Homo sapiens: one gene and its partner. The protein of the gene in region 2 interacts with the protein of the main gene of each other region in a pairwise test. Each region holds a gene or a part of one and is shown on either strand. Other genes may lie near its edges.

Region 1 (7,837 bases), on a different chromosome or scaffold from region 2:
CTTCTTCATCAAGTGCTCATGAGTACTTTTAAAATTTCCTTCTCAAAAACTTTACTGGAACTTTTTTACTACAATCAACAGAATAATGTAGTTTTATTTCCTAGGCAGCATTTCTGATAAGCATGAAATAGGGTAGACCACTCTCTCCCTCAATCATTACATAAAAACCAGTGCAAATACAATGAGTATTTCCTTCTGCTATGGCATAATGATCACTTCTGAGTCAATCTGTAGACTACAGAAGAATGTGATAGAAGAAGGTGAGTTATTTTATGTAAATAATGAAATAGATGTTCTAGAGTTCTATGTTATTGGTCAGATTAGGTTAGGTGATTCCGCAGTAATAAAAAGACCCCAAATCACAGTGGTTTAACACATAACAGTTTATTTCTTACACTTAAAAAGTTTACTGCAAGTCCATCAGCACTCCAGTCAGGTCCCTTCTAAACAGCGACCTAAGGACCCAGGTTGCATCCGTCTTGTAAGTATGCCATTTGGAACATCTTGCTTTCAGGTCACCATGACAGGCAAAAGAAAACTGGAGGGTCATGCAGAACTTTTTACAGTCCAACATGGAAATAGAAAATCACTTCTGTTTACAATCCCTCTGCTTGAAGTAGTCAAATGGCATTGCCTAACTACAAGAGGTTTGGAAGTGAACAGGAGCAGATAGATACATGATGAGCTGTAAATGCTTTTGCCATATTCTACAAATAATATAAGCTTATAAAAAGCATTTTAATGAACAATTCTGAAAAACTCTATATGGATACAAAATATCCCATAAATGTAATAGTTTTTATCAGCATAAACATATATTTTTAGGAAAAAGCTAAAGTTATGAAGCTCCAAGGTAATCTAACATGGCATCACTATAATGTTCCAAGAACTTTAATGAGAGATTCCAGTATTTCCAATGCAAAAAATTTGGCAGCCAACATGTTTATGTAGATGTTTTTTATCTTTATAATTTTACTTGTGATTGAAGGTAGCCGAGATAAAATCTGCTATTGAAAAACAATAGCTATTGAGCTTTTCATCATGCCAAAATACTTTGTACCTATGACATTACAATTAGCACATCCTCCATCACAGGTGGTTTTGAGACACAAATTTATAATTTATGTTACTCTGATATATAAAAATGTAAAGTAAAAATATTTTTTCACTTATTTTTACACTAGTGGTAAAAGTGAATCAGCAACAGATACAAGGCACCAAATTGTAGGAAAATACGGACACAGGAAGATCAATGATGTCATTATCATCTACATTTAACTTCTATATAAATTCAATATTAATGCTTAAGACAACAATCTTTTCAACAACAATCTTACTAAGATTTTGGCAGTAGTTTCATGTAACATACGGCGTACTAGAGGTCTGGCACTCAACTTGCGTACAGTAACCAGCTTCAATATGAAGGCATTACATATTTTTTAAAAAAAACCTTTTCACATGCTAAATATTTTGGCAAGGGTGCAATTAAACACAGTAATGAAATTAATATAGCAAGGCTAAGAAACTAAAAACTTGAAACTTATATCCTAAGCATAAATCATATCTTAAAAAAGGATCATCAGTTATATAGAATATGGTCAGATAATTAAAACTTAACAGTATAAAACATGCAAAAAAAATTTCAGAATATTTCTTAATCAAACAACATCAGGGTCTGTTTAGAATGGTTCCCATACAAAATGGGTATAAAGTTATTTCAAATCATGTAATATTGTAATACTAAATATTATTCAGTACTGTATAGTAAACAGTGCTGAAGAAGAGGTAAATTTCATAGATATGGGGGCTTACTTATGCTGTAAACTCCTGTCCTTCTTGTTCACTTGAAGCAGCATACAACACCCCAGAATTTCATAAAGTAAGAAAAGGACGGCTGCTGCTCTGGCAAAAATAGGATGTGTAAGAGTCAAAGGCACACTATTCAGCTAGCCACAGTGATTAGCAAACACTTGCCCTTCCCACCCCACATGCTCTTTCCCCATGTAAACAAAGATTCATTAAAGAAAAAAGGAAAATGAACTAAACTTATTTACAAAAGCAAGGAATTTGAGACATCAATATTAAGTCCTTGCATCAAAAATACCAACTACAATTGTCTGGAAATTACATTTATGTTTCATTGATGGTGATATTTCAAAGATGTATTCGAATTAGATACATTTAACCTTAGATACACTTTTTTTTGTCAAAGTTATTCATTATCTAACACATTTTACTTTAATTTCAAACATTTTATTCACTGGTATGACAACAGAATTTTAGCTCTCAGAGGAATTAACCATTAGAAGGAAGGACAAGCAAACAAACAAAAATGTATATTGAAGTTGCCAGCAGCCACTATGCCCCTTACTGGCACAGTGGGATTTGATAGGCAACTCAAAGTCCAGAAATAATTCTACTAACACAGGGGAACTCGGCAAACTCATTCTTGCTTTTTTTCTTGATGTTACCTTGACTTGTGACTTGATCCAGACTTCTTTTTCTTCTTCTTACTATGTTTCTTGTGCTGTTTCTTCTTCTTCTTCTTTACTTTTTCCTTTGCTTGTTCTCGCTCTTCACACCTTCTCTTCTTTTTTGCTTGCACATCCTCTTCATAATCTGATTCAGATGAGGACTCAGATGATAAAGGTTTATCATCAGGGTAACTTTTCTTTCTTTTTTTGCTGAGGCTTCTTACATCCTTTTCTTTCTCTGTTTCATCCTTTGACTTCTTTTTCTTTTTTACAGACTCCTTGCTCTCTGATTCTGATTCATGCGTAGAGCTTTGGGATGATTTGTATGAACGGTTCTTCTTTTTCTTTCTCCTTTTTCCTTGTTTCTTTTCCTCATCCTCAGAATCTGAAGAACTGCTTGAAGAATCAGAGCTTGATGAAGAAGATGAAGACCGACAAGATTTCTTCTTTCTCTTTTTCTTTCTTTCTCTTTTTTTAGATGAGCTCTCATTTCCACTTAATAATTTCTCTCTGCTTTTTTCAAGTTCTTTCTTCCAATTTTCATTCATTTTTTCTTCAAATTCAGCTAATGCTTTTGAACCTGTTTTTTTATTTTCTAATTGTTTCTTTACTTCTTCCCAGGTGGGTCTTGGTCGATTTAGATAATCTTGGATTGTTGGGCCCACAGATTGAGTTGGGCCTCTCCATCTGGCCATTGCTATAGGATTCATATAGGCTACCCGATTATCCCGCTTCCCCATGGTGCCTGATGTTTCCAAGGGCAGACTCTCAGTTGCCAAGGAGAACAAAGATAGATACTCGCCTTAAATTCTTTATCTAGTGAAATATCAAGCAAGCTCCATTCTGTAAGAGAAGCAGATGGAATGATTACAAATCACCTTTAATATAAAGACAAACAAACATATAAGCTTAATTGTTAACACTGCCTATCACACAGTACAGTAGAAATTTCCAAAATCTTATACCATGGGAACAAACAATATACACATTTTAAAATTTTACATATTATAGACACTGTGGTATAAACATAATATAAACTAAAAGTGTTTTATATACCTCATGTAAGATTCTGACAGATACCTAAAATATTTAATAGCCATTTTCTCTTACATTGTATGATACTTAACTTTTTCCTTTCTTTCATTCCTGCTTTATATAGTATATAGAGAGAAATTTATAAAACTAAAATCTGTACCAGACAGACCTTCGCCAACTCAAGAAAGTGCAACACAACCCTCTCCATTCCTTTTGACAGAAGCCCAGGAGTCATAACTGAGAAATCCTTCTCCCTCAACGGTCAAATCCAATACATTACTAAATCCTGATATTTAAACCTCCACAATAGGCCTCATATCCATTCACTTGTCTCCAAATATACTGTCATCAACTTAGCCCAGGCCACTATCATCTCTCGCTTGGGCTATTAATCTCTAGTACCTAGTAAGTGTTTATTCTCTGTCAAGGACTGCTTAGTGTTTGCAATGGATTATCTCATTCAATCTCAAGGCCAGACCTATGAAGTTGATCCTATCATTGTCTCTATTTCACAGATAGATAAACTGAGGCTTAGAGAATTAGAGTAAAACTCAAAATTTGAACATGAAGTAACATGGCTAATAAATGGCATATCCAGGATTTAAACAAAGGCAGCCTGATTCCAAGCTGCACAAATAAGGCAACACCAAATTGTCTCCTTACATCAACCTCTTAATAGGTAGCATTTTTCCAACCTTACTCCCTTTTATTCTAGTCCCACACTGTAAACAGAGGGATCTTAAAAAACTCCAGTGGTTTTATATTTTAATGAAAAACAAATCCAATCTCCTATAAGGTCCTATATGATCTGCCCTACTTCTGTCTCTTACTTTTGTTTTGTTTCACTCACCTTTTTTCTCAATTCTTTTCATTTGGTTCCTGGAACATGCCGAATTATAGGCTTAGCCAGCATGGCCAATTCCACCTCATCCTTCAGGTTTCAGCTTAAATGTCAATTCCTCAGAAAGTCAACCATTAGGTTAAACTATGTAAAACTATTTTATGGGACACAAACAGTTTAAAGATCAACAACTTTTTATGGCTCAACCTTATACTAAAGTGGTTTGCCTCTCTGTCTACCCCTCATCCTCATTTTTCTGTATGATAGTTCATCGTTTATTTTATTTGTAGCATTTATGAAATTGGTAATTATTTTATTTGTGATTATTGCGTTATACATGTGTATCCACTGCTAAATGTAAGACCAAGAAGGGTAAAGGTCATGTGTGGCCTATCTTATTCACCACGGTGTTCCCATTACCTGACATAGAATCTGATCCATATTAAGCACTCAATAAATATTTTCTCAATAATAAACAAATAAATAAATGCATGGATGGATGGATGGGTAACTCTGAGAGAAAGGAGGATTCAGAGGGAGTGTCCTGGAGATGGTGATGTCTGTATAGGGTCTTAAGGAATGAACAGGCATTTACCCAGAAAATGAGGAAATTAAGGACAATCTTGGCAGAGGAAACATGAGAAAAGAGCAGCAGGTATTTAGAGTTGATGGAACCTAAAGATCAAGAGGGCAGGGGGAAGGAGGTAAGTTTGCAGAGATAAAAAGAAGCCTAAATATGGAGGCCCTCTTAGGTCATTTGAAAATCTTGAATTTTGTCCTATAGTTGATACAAGAGCCAATAAAGTCTTTTATATAGAAGAGAAAGACGATCAGACATATAATAGATTTTTCTATCAATCTCCATCTTAAATCTGATCCTTTAAGTCAACCTAACATACCTACCCATCATAAGCTCAATGCTATAGACATTTCAGTGACTCTTGGTGATAGTTTCCAACATCTTATTTTCTGTGTTCTTGATCTTATTCTCCTTCCTCTTTATTTATAGGCAGCCCTTTTAGGTCTTTCTGTAATTTTCATTCTTACTCTTACCCTAACCACGTCTCAAATATCATTGTGTCTCTGATTTGACCATTCAAAACTCTTAAATACTTCAGTTCATATTCAACTTGCAGCTTCTTTCTGTTACTTGACACTTACAATAGAATAATCCATTCTAATTTCAGTCCCTTGAGACCTAGTCCTGACATCAGCTAGAAAGATAGGCGAAGGCCAGTTAACAAAGGCTTTGGGTGGTATGCTAAGGTGGTTGGAATCTCTCCTGTGGGATTTACAGTGAAGCTAACGGGGAGACACTATTTTAAGCAGAAAAATGATATGGTCATATTTGAGTGTTTAAGGACAATTATTTGCCCAGTGACAGACGGATTGAAGTCAGGTTAAGACAGAAGGCAATGGGACCACTTAAAAATTCATGTAGACAAGAAATGAAAGAGTCTGAACTCAAACAGCAACACTGTGAATGAAAAGAATGAGAAATATATGAGACATGTTGAGAAGATTCTATTGAAATTAGTGACAAATTGGATACAAAGGATGAAAAAGAGAAAGAAATCTGGGGTAAGGCTCTGGCTCGACACATTAGACCAAAGGCAATGACAATGACTAGGTAATAGAGAAAATGGCACAGACTTCGAGAAAAGGTTCTAGTTTCCATTTTGGACTCCTGAAGTTTGAAGTGCCTATGAGATTTATGGACAATTATCCATGTAAGAAAGAGGATGTATGGGATTTGGCACTTTGGAAAGTGATCTGAGTTAGAAATACTGAACTGGCAGTCGCTGAGTGATAGCTAGGGTCATGAGAGAAAACTAAATTATTTTGCAGGGAAATTTCAAGTGGAAAAAAGTTTGAGACTGGATCCAACTGAACACCAACATGCAAGGGGTTGGCAGTGAATGAAAAACCTACAAAGTATGCATTAAGAAATTAGCCAGAGTAGTAAGAGCTGGACCAGTATCAGAAAAGAAAGAGTCAAGAAACACAGGGTGAATAAAGTTTCAAGGTGAGCATAAGAATCCTTATGACTCTGTAATGTTTAAATTTTCTACAAAAAACAAGTATTATCCTTACCTTTGAAAAATTCATAAAAATAGAAAAGATTTGTTACAGACAACAGTATTAAATGCAGAAGATCAGTCAAGTTCAGATCTGAAAATGTCCATTATACTTAGCTATCAAGAAGTCATTAGTAACCTTTGCTAATGCAATCTCAGCTAAGTGGTGAAGGCACAAGCCAGGTGACAGTGGGTTAAAAGACTGAATTGAAGGTGAGAATGTAGAGACCTAGAGTACATAGTCACAGTCAATACGGAAAGTAAAGAGATAAGAAGGCAACCATGAAAGATGCAGAGTTAAAATTCTTTTGTGTTTTTTTTTACATGAAAGAAACTTGAGCATATTCATAGGGCATCTAGAAGGATAAAGTACAAAGAAAACATGTTTTAAAAACCTAGGTAAGAGAAGAAATAACTAATGTGGCAATATCACAGAGAAAACAGAAAGGAATGAAATTAAATTCAGAGATAGAAAGAATTTCTTCCCCCAAGAGCAGAGGCAAAGAATAAAGACAGGGAATGGATGCAGGATTTTTTGTAGGGTGGTAGGAGGTAAAAGGGAGAAAGATGAAGTATTTCTCACATAATAGCCTTCATTTTCATTCAGTGGTAAGTGCCAAGGTTGTCTGCTAAGATTAAGACAGGAGTTTTGAGACCAGTAATTAAAATTTGGAGTAACAACAGAGAATGGGAGAGGGTGTTGTCACCATGTAAGTGTTGCTGGAGTTCTTCTGAACTGAAGAATCTGTATGATCCTTTCCTAGAAGATAAATCAAATTGAGAAAAGAGAAAAAGTAACACCAACAAAGTCTCTTGCTCAAATACTCTGTTTTAAAAGCACTGTGGCTTATCTTCTCTGTTTCTATTATAGAACAAAGAGTAACTTGATTTTCTGTACATCTACTTATTTTCATGAAATATGCTAAAATCCTGTAAAGGTTAGATATAAATTGTGACAATCATGCTAGTAATCTGGATATTATAATAATATTTGTTCATTGATTCTTACAATTCCCTTTTGATAATCTATTATGTGCCAAGATACTATGCAATGGATATTACAGTTTAGTAAAGGTAATAGTTATTACACAAATATGAAACAAATGAGTATATAATCATAATCATGACTGGGGAGATGAAGGAAAAGTACAGGATGCTATGAAAGAAACAGAGACCTAATTCAGAAGGGAAGGTCAAGTCTGAGATACTGACATATCATCTGAGACACTGACATATCATCTGAGACCTGTGGTATAAACCAGAGCTAGCCAGAAAAAGCAGTTAAACAGGATGGGAGTAATAAAAGAGCCAAAATTGTTTGAATGCCCCAATCAGAAGGAATATCAGATGCTAAGGCCTTGAGGTACAAAGGAAAAGCTGAATACAGTACAAAATATTCATATTACTTT
Region 2 (7,837 bases):
CAGAGACGCCTGCAGACAGCGTGCAGGTGCAGGGAAGTGTCTTCCCAGCGGTCATGATGCTGCAGGCACATGCAGGCGAGCAGAAAGGACGCAGAAAGGAGAGAGGGAACTCAGGGTTTGTGGGGGTACCAAGGGACCCCAATTCCTTTAAAAGAGAAAGGTCACCTGTGGGCAGAGGCAGTGGACGGGAGGAAATCCTGCGTGTGGGGAGAAGACTCGCTGACCAAGCCCCCACAGCAGGCCTGCCCTGGCAGGGGCGCCCCCACCGCTGGCTCACCCCTGGCAAGTGCTTGAGACCTCTGCCTTTAGGGTCATGCCTAAAGGCTGGAGAAGGGGAATGAACTGAATGGGAGCCCACACAGCCAGCCAGACACAGGCACACTCCCCATGAGTGTTCTGGAAAGACGAGCTGCGCTGTCTGGAGAATGGTCCCATCCAAAGGTCACCTGTGGCAAGCCCAGGGACATGTGGCACTTTTCCCTTGCTGTCGGCATGCAAAGGCAGCCTTCAGCGGATCTCAGGACCCCTCGGCTGACGCTGGCTAACTGCAGACAGCTGTCAGGGCAGGCATCTGTAAACTGTCTTGCAGGGTGGGCGGCGCCTGGGCCCGATATGAAATTCCTTTTATCATTTCCTTCACTCAAATACATGCTTCCCTAAAGCACAATGAGTAAGCCAGCCATAGCCTATTTTTCAACCACGGATTTAAAAAAATCTAAAATTCTGGACGGGTGCGGTGGCTCAAGCCTGTAATCCCAGCACTTTGGGAGGCCGAGACAGGAGGATCACTTGAGGCCAGGAGTTCAAGACCAGCTGGGGAAGCATGGCAAAAGCCCATCTCTACTTAAAAATAAAAAAAATTAGCTGGATGTGGTGGCAGGCACCTGTAATCCCAGCTACTTGGGAGGCTGGGGCACGAGAATCACTTGAACCTCAGAAGATGGAGGTTGCAGTGAGCCAAGATCGCACTGCTGTGCTCCAGCCAGGACAACAGAGAGACTCTGTCTCAAAACAACAACAACAACAAAAAAAACCTAAAATTCACCCAATAATAGTAACAATTTATCAAGCATTGCTGTGTACCTGCTGTGCGCATTGATTTAGGCTTTATAAGACAGCTCAAAGGCAGGTGGTTTTGTCTGTGCTCTGCAGATGAGAAAGCTGAGGTTTAGAGACTGAAGCCTTGACCAAGGTCAGCAGGGAGTGAGGAGGCTGGGCCAGGTTGTTTAAACGGCTCCAAACCTGCACCCTTCGCCGCAGCACCTATAGCTCTGCACATCAGATGACAGCAGAGACACACTGGCAGTGAGTTCAAAATGGGCAGCAAGAAGGCACCCAGCATTAAGGAATGAGAACAGGAATGAAGAATTGAAAATAAAACCGTGGTTCAGGGTCATCAGAAAACACTGTGGCTGGTGCGGTGGCTCAGCCTGTAATCCCAGCAGCCCAGCAGGCTGAGGCAGGAGGATCACATGAGCCTAGGAGTTGGAGACCAGTCTGGGCAACATGGCAAAACCCTGTCTCTACAAAAAATACAAAAATTAGCTGGGCATGATGGTGCACACCTGTGGTCTCAGCTACTCAAGGAGGCTGAGGTAGGAGGACTGCTTGAGCCCAGGAGGCAGAGATTGCAGTGAGCCAAGATCACACCACTGCACTCCAGCCTGGGCGACAGAGCAAGACCCTGTCTCAAAAACAAACAAACATAAACAAACCCACTGTGAGGTCTGCTCTCACCATGCGCCCCTGAACTGGCAAAGGCTTCCACATACCTCTGACTGCAGAAAGGCTCCCACAAACATATTCATGGAAATAAATCTAAGTGGAGAACATCCCAAATCCAACAAGTCACAGACGGAATTCACATACCCACGCAAGCCCAGCAGATGGAGAGGCCGATTATTTCTGTTCTTACTGAAGTGCTTTTCTTGTGTATTTGTGGTCATCCCAAGTATCTGGGAATTTTATATTGATCTTAATGTATACCTCAATATTTCTTATTTTAATGCTTTTCTTTCTACTTTCTTGCATTAACAAAAGAGATTTACCTTTTTTTCTTTATCTTTTTCTAATACTTTGGAAGCTATGTTTGATCTCTCTTTTTTCCTACCCTATACTTAACAAAGTTACCATTAAAATCTGAACCTGGGCTGGGCGCTCCCGCCTGTAATCCCAGCACTTTGGGAGGCCGAGGTGGGCGGATCACCTGAGGTCAGGAGTTTGAGACCAGTCTGGGCAACATGGTGAAACCCCATCTCTAATAAAAATACAAAACAAAAAATTAGCTGAGCGTGGTGCAGTCTCACCTCACTGCAACCTCCACCTCCCAGGGTCAAGCGATTCTCCTGCCTCTGCCTCCTGAGGAGCTGGGATCACAGGTGCCCACCACCATGCCAGGCTAATTTTTGTATTTTTAGTAGAGATGGGGTTTCACCATGTTGACCAGGCTGGTCTTGAACTCCTGACCTCAGGTGATCCGCCCACCTTGGCCTCCCAAAGTGCTGGGATTACAGGCGTGACCCACTGCGCCCGGCTGAGCACTGTTTTTATTTTACATACGGTTTAGATTCATCCATCTCCTAATTTCTTTGGCTACCATTCTTTCTTGAAAATTATACCCTACTTTTATAATTTTTGTTCTTACTGAAACACATCCTTAAAAAATATTGAAGTGAAGATCTATGGGCAGTAAAAGCTCTCATTTTTTTGTTTACCAAAACCTTTTTATTTTATTTGTACTCTTGAACAACACAGGGTGCTAGGTTGGTGATTTTCCAGCACATTGAGGATCTTCCACCTTCTCCCGCCACTGCTGCCTGCCGTAAGAAATCTGCTGTCGGCCTCACTGCTGACCATCCAGCGTGGTTCTCCAGCTTTCCTCTCCGGGGATTCGAAGACTTCCTTATCTTTTTTTTTTTTTTTTTTTTTTTGAGACAGAGTCTCACTCTGTCACCCAGGCTGGAGTGCAGTGATGCAGTCTCGGCTCACTGCAACCTCCACCGACCAGGTTCAAATGATTCCCCTGCCTCAGCCACCCCAGTAGCTGGGATTAGACATGTGCCACCAGGCCCAGCTAATTTTTATATTTTTAGTAGAGATGGGGTTTCACCATGTTGGCCAGGCTGGTCTCAAACTCCTGACCTCAGGGGATCCTCCTGCCTCAGCTTCCTGGAATGCTGGGATTAGAGGCGTGAGCCACCGCGCCCGGCTCCTCCTTGTCTCTGATGGTCTGTGATGCCCCAGGGCCTGCCTAGGTGTGGATTTCTGTGCATTCGCTCTGCTTGGTCTACATGTGCTTCCTGTATCTGAAAAATCGTGCCTTCATCAGTTCAGGAGGTCCTCAGGCATCCTCTCTTCCCAGGAGGCTTCTCCTGTTCTCTCCTTTGGGGATGGGGGCCAAAGCCCTATTTTATGAAGGTTCTCATTCTGTCCTTACATCTTTTCACGCCTATTTCACATTTTTCACCTCCTTTACTGTCACTGGATGATTTCTTCACATTGATGTCTGGTGTACCCATTCTCTCATTAACTGTGTCTAATCTGATACAAAATCCATCCATACGGTTTTGCTTTAAAATATCTACAGTTTTCACTGAGAGCAGTTCTACTTGGTTCTGTACCCATTCTCATTAACTGTATCTAATCTGATACAAAACCTGTCTGTAAGTTTTTGCTTTAAAATATCTACAGTTCTCACTGAGAGCAGTTCTACTTGGTTCTCTTTCAAGTCGGGGCACAGTGGGTCATCTTCAGTCCACATCTGCTGTTTACGTTGTCATTCTTGATTATGAATTCATATTTAATTTTCCTTAATCTGTGGGATTCTTCAGGCCTGAATGAGACTTTCTCCAGAGTGTACTTTCGTTTGCCTCTGCTGAAACCCAAGGGTCACTGTTAACCCTAGCTTGTCTCGCGCCCTCGCTCAAGAGTCCTGGTTTAGCTTCAGCGCCCTCTGCTACAGCTGCCCAAGGGTTAGGCTCCTGAAAGGCAGTGCTGACATTCCATTTCTGCACACCCCGGTTTTTGCTAAAGGGATTTGGTGGAAGGGTGGAGCTGAGAGGTTTTTGTTTCCTTACTGTGAGCCCAGAAATGCATTAAAAAGCCAGTTTCAGGCAGGATTTAGCTGTTTTGTAGTATTTTAGCTTCAGAATACTGCTAGAAAGTAGGAGTCTGTAATTTAGTTTTCATCAGTTAATATTTGCCCTTTTTGTATGTATTCATCTTATCCAGTTATACTCATGAATAACTCATTTGTATATTTTATATTATAGGATTTCCAATTCTCCCTTCCCACAGAAAAAAGCAGCAGCCTTTCATTTAAAAAAGGAAACAAACTGGCCGGGCGCGGTGGCTCACGCCTGTAATCCCAGCACTTTCGGAGGCCGAGGTGGGCAGATCACGAGGTCAGGAGATCAAAACCATCCTGGCTAACACAGTGAAACCCCGTCTCTACTAAAAATACAAAAAAAATTAGCCAGGAGTGGTGGCGGGTGCCTGTAGTCCCAGCTACTCGGGAGGCTGAGGCAGGAGAATGGCGTGAACCCAGGAGGCAGAGCTTGCAGTGAGCCGAGATCGCACCACTGCACTCCAGCCTGGGCAACAGAGCGAGACTCAGTCTCAAAAAAAAAAAAAAAGAGAAAAAACAAACCAGGAACTGAAGCTATAACACATTTAAGACAAGCTAGTCTAAGGGCTGGGTTACTAGTCTCTCTGCAGACAGTGGGGTGTCGCAGGCATGAAAAGTTAGCTGACATAAACAGCCTTTTCAGCAGTGCTACCGGCTCCTGAACTGGAAGGAGATCGTGCAGACAAGGTTACAGGCCAGCCATTTCCCATATGAGACAAAGTGTCTATGCGCTCACCATTTCCTACATGAGACAAAGTGTATACGCGCTCACCGTTTTCCATATGAGACAAAGTGTATGTGGGTTCACCATTTCCCACATGAGACAAAGTATCTATGCGCTCACCATTTCCCACATGAGACAAAGCGTATACGCGCTCACCGTTTCCCATATGAGACAAAGTGTATGTGGGTTCACCATTTCCCACGAGACAAAGTGTCTACGCGCTCACTGTTTTCCATATGAGACAAAGTGTATACGCGCTCACCGTTTCCCACGAGACAAAGTGTCTACGCGTTCACTGTTTTCCATATGAGACAAAGTGTCTACGTGCTCACCCTTTCCCACATGAGACAAAGTGTCTATGCGCTCACCGTTTCCCATATGAGACAAAGTGTATGTGGGTTCACCATTTCTCACGTGAGACAAAGTGTCTACGCGCTTACCGTTTCCCACGAGACAAAGTGTCTATGCGCTCACCGTTTCCCATATGAGACGAAGTGTCTATGCGCTCATGCAAAAACATGGAAACAGCATGAGAGTGTGAAATAAAACGTAAGAATCCCCTCCTTTCCCCACTCCCTGGATATCAGCATCACGCAGTTTTCTCGGGCATCCTTCTGAGATTTTTGTTTTCTTTTTTTTTTTTTTTAGACAGAGTCTTGCTCTGTTGCCCAGGCTGGAGTGGTGCAGTGGTGTGATCTCAGCTCACTGCAGCCTCCACCTCCCAGGTTCAAGCAGTTCTCCTGCCTCAGCCTCCCGAGTAGCTGGGATTACAGGTGTGTACCACCATGCTCAGCTAATTTTGTATTTTTAGTAGAGACAGGGTTTCACCATGTTGCTCAGGCTGGCCTTGAACTCCTGACCTCAGGTGATCCACCTGCCTCAGCCTCTCAAAGTGCTGGGATTACAGGCATGAGCCACCATGCCCAGCCCCTTCTGGGATTTTTCCACACATGTACACACCACACACACAGCATCCTTTCTTAAGACACAAAATGAATCATAGCATACTATGGACTTTGTTGTATACTTCCTTTTTCGCTTAAAACTGTACGGGCAAGATGAAGGCTCTCCATGATGGCCGCAGAGGGTCCCTGTATGGGTGCCGCATAATTAGTCTCCAGTGACAGGTGCTTGGGTTGCTTCTAGTTTTGTGCTACTATAAAAATAATACAATAATGAGAATACCTGTGATAAAATGAGAACACCTGTCCAGTTGCATACTTTTGCACATCTCTGTAGGTTGCATGTTATTCTGTGGAATTGCTGAGTTGAAAATTGCAACCACTTAAACTGTTGACGGCCACTGCCAAACCACCCTCCAGAGATGCGCCTGTTCATGTCCCCACGACGCCCGGTGTGAGCGGTTACCTGTCCACAGTGGGTGTTGTTACCAAGCCTCTGAGTCTCTGTCCACATGACAGGTACAGATCGGTTTCTCTATGTATAATACACATACGCACAGAGGCACATACGGACAGACACACAGCTACACATGTGTTTGATACGCAGGGAGGCAGGACACCTTTTCTTTCAGGGATGCATGCTGAAATACGCGTCAGCATGCTCTGGTGTTGGCGCAGTGTGGGCAGGACACACGAGGGGCCATGTAGGGAGCTGTTGGAGCTTGGTAACGGGTAAACAGAACTCAACATTCTCTTTACTTTTGTTTAAACATTCCCATATGCTCTGGTAAACCGTGGGAAGCTGCCATTGCTATGGGTCAGAATGGTGAGAGTGGCACGTCACACAGCTCAAGCTAAGAAAAAGAGGTAGCCAGGTGCCTTCCGACAGCCTGCCAGCCAGATGGCCTCGGCACCTCCTGCATAGCCCTCACTTCCTGCCTGAGAGCCCACGGCTGCCCCGTGCATGGTCGCGCGCCACCCCCACGGGAGCCCCAGGCGGCAGGGACTGGCCCAGCAGACACTCACGGCTCCAGAGTGAGTAGGCGAGGCGGCAGTTGAGGCGGCGGTAGAGCTGCTTGCTGACCGGCCAGAGCGCCAGCGTGCACAGCTGGACGAAGTTGATGACCAGACCACTCACCACGAAGACAAAGCCGACCAGCAGGTGCAGCACGAACTGGGTCTTCAGGAAGGCCAGCAGGCCCATGGCGCTGCTCAGGAGCGGGTGCACGGCCCCTCGCTGAGGACAGCCGTCCTGCAAAGACAGGGACAGGGACAGCGTCAGGGTGGCCACGCCCACACCCTCACAGGAACACCGGGGCACTGCTCACTGCACACCCCGCACATGCCTCACGCTTATACACACATGCTGCACAGCACACTGCAAACCCCACACACGTGCCACACACATACAAACCACACACATGCCACACACACCACACTGCAAACCACACACACGCCACACACCACAAACCACACACACACCACTGCAAACCACACGTCACACACACACCACAAACCACACATGCCACACACATACCACACACACGCCACACACACACAACCACACACACGCCACACACCACAGCTCATCACAAACCCCACACATGCCACACACATGCCACACACACCGCAAACCACACACCACACACACACCACATCACAAACCCCACATGCCACACATCACACACCACACACGCCACACACACTGCAAACCACACACACCACACACGCCACACACATACCGCAAACCAAACACATGCCACACACACACACTGCAAACCACACACATGACACACACACACCACAAACCACACACACCACGCATACCATACCACAAACCACACACATGCCACACACACCACACTGCAAACCACACACATGCTACACACACACCGCAAACCACACACATGCCACACACACCGCAAAACCACATACACGCCACACACACACAAGCCACACACATGCCACACACACACCACCCCACCACCCACACACACACCATACACACCACACACCACACACACACCGCAAACCACACATGCCACACACACCACACATCACAAACCACACACACTACACACACTG

The links.
Region 1: the proteins of AGPAT3 (region 2) and FAM133A interact in binary tests that used the Homo sapiens proteins (3 or more experiments, as listed by UniProt).

The regions. Positions count from the first base shown.
Region 1 is NC_000023.11:93,704,797-93,712,633, reverse strand, and holds the end of FAM133A (protein FAM133A), read right to left. Parts: intron 7,189-7,837; exon of another isoform or gene 4,360-7,188; intron 3,318-4,359; 5' UTR 3,215-3,317; coding exon 2,468-3,214; 3' UTR 369-2,467; downstream 1-368.
Region 2 is NC_000021.9:43,958,801-43,966,637, reverse strand, and holds part of AGPAT3 (1-acyl-sn-glycerol-3-phosphate acyltransferase gamma), read right to left. Parts: intron 7,005-7,837; coding exon of another isoform or gene 6,957-7,004; coding exon 6,779-6,956; intron 6,007-6,778; exon of another isoform or gene 5,859-6,006; intron 1-5,858. UniProt on the Homo sapiens protein: Converts 1-acyl-sn-glycerol-3-phosphate (lysophosphatidic acid or LPA) into 1,2-diacyl-sn-glycerol-3-phosphate (phosphatidic acid or PA) by incorporating an acyl moiety at the sn-2 position of the glycerol backbone.